Regions from separate parts of the Homo sapiens genome. Here region 1 is linked to region 2. A link means that fine-mapping ties the variant in region 2 to the expression of a gene that starts in the linked region. Tissue or cell type: whole blood. Region 2 holds a variant in brackets; the other region holds the start of a gene. All regions are shown on one strand. Distances are from middle to middle.

Region 1 (2,690 bases), 42 kb after region 2:
GAGATACTGTCTCTAAATGAAAGTGATCTCCGCCCTGTCCTTTCAACCTCACGTTCATGGTAAGTAGAGGTCCAAATGCGGAGATGGCTTTCCAAAGTATGAGACAGTCAGCAACAGTGGTCCCAGTGACTCAGGTGAAAAGCCAAGGTTTGGAGAGTCAATACCACTGTTAGTTCGTGGGTGGAGTAGGCGATTAAGTCTGTGGAATTTCACATGTATTTATTAAAGTTAATTCAAGTAATTTGGATGGTGAGGATGGGTTCTACTTCTATCTGCTTGAATTCTAACTTCAGGTAAAAGAGAAAGAAATATGAATACCTTCCCTTAGTGGCATGCTAAAACTCTCCCCTTAAAATATTTTTTGTGCCACTAGGTCTCAAAGCAAAAATTTGTGCACACATATGAAACTGCTTTTATTCCATCTGTAAACTCTCCCATTTTCTCCAGATATTTGGGATTAAGAACTAGATTACTTGCTAAAATCTTTCAAAGACCTCTTTAGCCATGAGAAGCGGCAGTCAGTCAATCACAAGAAAAACTGATTTCCAACAAACAAGGCACAATTGTGAACATCGCCTTATCTTTATTGTTTTCAAACACCTCATTGAAGAGACAAGTTAAATGCACTAAAACATCAAGAAATTCTCTCTACTTCTGCTTGCAAGTAGGTCTGGCATTAACAAATAAGATCTTAAAATTGAAAGTGACTTCCAGTGGATACAGAACTAACTATGATTTTTGTAATTAGGTCATATTTATGTGGTCATATTTGAGAAGATATTTATTTTTTCCTGTGCACCTTGATAAATAAAAGACTTAATCTGTCATCTATTTAACTTACTGACTCAGGTTAATGTTTATAGATACTCTCTAGCTGTATAACATTTATGAACATATGATAAGAAAACATTATTATACATACCTGGACGTGACTGTATTTGTTCTTGGCTGGGACACTTTGAACATTTGCCATCCAAACTATTGACAACAAATGTTAGATTTGCCACTTTGCTGTCAACATAATTTTCTATGTTGTTCATATTTACAAGATTCAGCTTCTCCAGGCGACCATGAAGTACATTGATCTCCTCTTTGGCATTCTTTAGCTCAGAGGACAGCTTGTTAACCTCACTCTCTAATTCTCTAACTCTGTTATCACCAACCTCTCCCGGGGCTCCTGTACTGGGTAACAACAGTCCGTTTCTGCCTGGGTCTCCGTTGTCATCAGCCTGCAGCTTGCAGTCTTGGCAAGATTTCTTTAGACTATTTACGATTTCCTTGAGGTTTTGGACTTCTTTGAACACCTCCTCGATCCTGCTGAATTGCTTCGGGAGCTGAATAGTCAAGGGGGGCAGGCTTACCTGGTAGGGGCACTCCCCTGCCTCTTCGCATTTCCCTCTGCTTTCTAGTCTCACTGGGCAGACATCCTTTGCTCTTTCATCTTTAATTTCCTCTGTTTCATTGTTTGCCACAACCAAAAAACCGTAAGTGGCAAGAACAGCTGAGCTCAGCCAGTACCAGTTAGCCAGCTTCATCTTTACAGTGCTGCTCACCCCAGCAGGGAGTGCGCAGGGCTGGAGCTGCTTTAATAGCGGCAGCTGCCTGAGTCAGGCTTTCTGTGTTCCCAGGAAAGGGTGGGAGCGTTTGCATCACAAGTTTTAGAAACGCACAGGAAGAGGAGATAGCCCTCATCAAACGCAGTTTGCCAAAAACTGTAACTTACTCTCAATAGAAATAATATGCATTGAAATTATTATAGTCAAATGTACACAGCCAACAAGATTCACTTTCATAATGTATTTTATGAAGTATAAGAAAAGTCTTGCATTTCTAAAGTAATTTGGTATACTTACGCTTGAAGTAAATAATTATACGTAACTTCACTGGAAAAACAGTTTTTAAAGATAAAAAGTAAGAGCTAGTTATCCAAACTGTCTATAGAACAGAAACGTTACTAAAATGAAAATGGTCCTTTTTCCTTCTTAGAATGGGGCATTGGGGAGCCTGTATTTTCTTCATGTTGGACTTTCAGGTGAAATCTTAAGCACTTTTAGAAGTTTCTAAGTGTAACAAAGTACAGCTTTCTGACTATTGCAGTTGACTTTTGCTTCATCTACTTGAAAAAGAGAAGAAAACTAGTGGAGAAAAAAGTGCTACTTTCTATTCCTTTGTCCGTAGCATAGTGTATATTAATGTCTAAATGTCTAAGACCCATTTAAAAGGACATAATTGTCTTTCATCAAAACCAGTAGCTGCCTCCTTTGCCCTTCGACATTTTGGTAATTGTACTGTCATCTTCCACAGCTGCTCAAATGTGAATCTTTGAGCTATGCCAGTGTCTGTCCTGAACTTCTCTTGCCTACAGCATCTTTGCCCTTTCTTTCTGCAGGTAGCCCTGGCAGGCGGGCCTCTTGCTTTCTGTCTCCACGCTGGTTCTTCTACCTGCTCTCTGGGCCACTTGGTATATCAGCTTGTTCAAAACATGTAGCATTAATGATAATAGTTTTCTAACTTTCTCTTCAGAGGCTGAAGGCAGGAAAGAGGAACAGCTTCAGTTAGAGAAACCACCTCCTTTTAATTTGTTTTGCATATTGACATCTCATAAGATTTCTTGTTTAAAAAGGGTTTTTTTGCTTTAAAAATAATTTCAAAATGACTGACATGGGCAAAAATCTAAATGTTTTATTGTA
Region 2 (2,690 bases):
CCACCATCATGTTGCAATTAACAGATTCCTCATGGATTACACATGCGTATAATCTAAGAGGTAACTGTTTAACATGTCTGAACATTAACTTTAAAGGCCAGATATGCACTTGAAGCTTTCTTTCAGAGTTTTGCTATTTGTGCGTTTGTGTGGTTTTAATTGAAGGTAGTTCAAACCCCATTGTTACTTTAACACTTCAATTATGAGGCAATTTTTATCTGTACATATTTACTGCAAGAGTTTTCATTTTTCCTTTAAGATTCTTTTTGTTTTTCCTGTAGGACTCTTTTCTTTTCAGGATTCTTTTTTCGAAAGTCCTCTTTATCATTCCTTTTAGGAAAAAAAAAAATGTTGTGATTTGATTTGTTGGGTCTTTGAATAACATTTTTACTTTCTTTTTTAAAAAAAGCATCTCCATAAATATATATACCTACTATGTACCCACAAAAATAAAAATAAATAAAATAAAATATGTATCTATATCTTAAAAAATGTTTCAAGTCTAACATTGTCTTTGTATGGTAAAAATGAGCATTGTATAATTGTACTTAGAATATAAAATCTAGGCAGGAATAACTGCAATCATTTTATCTGTGGCTTTTAGGACTATTAAGTTAGTTCCATCTGATTTTGTTGTTGTTGTTGTCCATTAAATGGATCTGAGGTATGCCTCATGTCAGATTGGCTGCCCAATATTCTGAGCCTGTCATATAGTGGACCGGAGGCCCCATAGGATGAGCCTTAAATTTTATAGACTTTTTATGTTATCTCCAAAAGATAATATACATATAATTACCAGAGATACACTGACAGAATTGAAGGCACTTGTCATACAACTTTATACCACAATTTTTGTAACCCTGTTTTGAAGTTTCTATGTTTTTTAACATGTTAGGAAACTAAAACAAAACAAAACAAAAAAATGGAAGTGTCCCAGAGTTCTCCCTTCCTCCAAGGGGTCAGCTCTGAGTTCCTGTAGAAACATGTTGTAATTAACCTTGTAGAGCAATGGGCTGCTGGGGGAAGGAGCACCCAATCTTATCTTCAGGGCAGTCAGAAGAGCCAAGTCACAAAAAAGAACACTCAGGTTCTGTGTGGGACTAGGAGAGAAATAAATCATGTTCAACTTTACATTACACCCTGCTGTTTCTAAAATGAGCAAAACCTGTGCTTGTTCAATGATGAGTAATATTGAAAGACCGTGTGGTTTTCTGCTACAGCTTTCTTGAAGCATTGCCATTTTATTGTCCAAAAGTCACATTGTTTGTGTATCCTGCCCCATTCTCTGGAGCATGCAGTATTTGGTTTTTACACATGCTCCTTGTAACTATCTAGAAATGTTTCCTTAATAATTCAAAATCAAAACAAAATGATGATCACCTATGTTTCATTTGAAGAAGAGGAATTACTGATGTGTATTACAAAACAAGGGGTACCCTGCAATGTTTATTGCTTAATTATTCTTTGTGAAGCTTCCTATTTTGGCTTATTCATGTCTTCTGCTTTCTTAA[A/T]ATCCCCTTAAGGCCACATCCTCTTCTCTTCAGACTCCTACAGCATCTCATGGTACTGCCTTGCCTCCTTCCAGTGGGGGCTGCTTCTCTGCAGAACTTGCTATGCCAGTGGTGCTCCCTGTAAGTGTGCAGTGTGTGGCCACCCTGTTTCTGTGGTCCAAGTTATCATAGCACCAATTTCAGTTAAAACGTTTAGAATTTTATGTCTGTGATTTTTTGATTAACTTGTCTTGCTGCCAGTCTCTGCGTCCCCTAAGGTCAGGAACCTTGTCTGGTCTTGCTCACCATGGTACCTATCTCCTACCCATAGCACAGTGGCTGGGTCCCAGCCTCCAGATTGTTTCCTTGCCTCTAAATTCACACATTTTCCAAGCCATTCTTCTCAGCAATATTGTCAGCAATATCTTTACAACTCTGCCATGGCTCCCAATGCCTAGAGTTCAAGTCCCAAATTCCAGGCTACCAGTTACTTTTTCAGCCCTATCTACTCTCCTAAGAACGTTGCTTTTTATTTGGGCTTATTTTACCTCAGCTTATGTGACAGAGAACTAGTTCTTTCCCTGCCTTACTTTCTCTTCAGATTATACATTGTTTGCATATTTGTAAATTCTTTATAGGAAAACTCAATAAATATTTATTTAATTGATTTAGGCATTCTGGAGATATAAGTCTCTAGAATTACCATACCTGATGGCTATGTAGTTCTTCCTATGCCAGGAATTTAAGGTGTTATATTAAACATTCTCTGTTCATATCACCGTAGCCTGAGAATATACTTTATTCTATTATTTTATTTACAGCTGTCAATCATATTGCCTGCAATATGGAACTATTAATACAATGGGCTTTGCAATCCTATATATTAACTGTCTTTGGATATTTATTGTTTTTTTTTGTTTTTTGTTTTGAGACAGAGTTTCACTCTGTTGCCCAGGCTGGAGTGCAGTGGCGCTATCTCGGCTCACTGCAACCTCTGCCTTCCAGGTTCAAACGATTCTCCTGCCTCAGCCTCCTGAGTAGCTGGGATTACAGGCGCCCACCACCATGCCCGGCTAATTTTTGTATTTTTAGTAGAGACGGGGTTTCACCATGTTGGCCAGGCTGGTCTCTAACTTCTGACCTCGTGATCCGCCCACCTCCACACCACAAAGTACTGGGATTACAGGCGTAAACCACTGC

What was found. PIP is the estimated chance that this variant, and not a neighbour inherited with it, causes the effect.
Region 1: FGL2 starts here. The variant in region 2 is fine-mapped to the expression of FGL2 in whole blood (TOPMed, PIP 0.99).

What each region holds. Positions count from the first base shown.
Region 1 is chr7:77,198,259-77,200,948 of GRCh38, forward strand. FGL2 (fibrinogen like 2) reads right to left here and starts at 1,561. Exons shown (of 2, transcript NM_006682.3): 1 at 923-1,561. The coding sequence starts at 1,535. All of the region lies in intron 2 of CCDC146 (coiled-coil domain containing 146), which reads left to right. RefSeq lists a silencer at 1,152-1,261.
Region 2 is chr7:77,156,120-77,158,809 of GRCh38, forward strand. All of the region lies in intron 1 of CCDC146 (coiled-coil domain containing 146), which reads left to right. The region is part of intron 1 of LOC124901678 (a long non-coding RNA gene); the gene reads right to left. Among named protein-coding and RNA genes, the nearest start is that of CCDC146, 35 kb to the left of the region's middle. The variant A/T (reference allele first, on the strand shown) is at 1,512.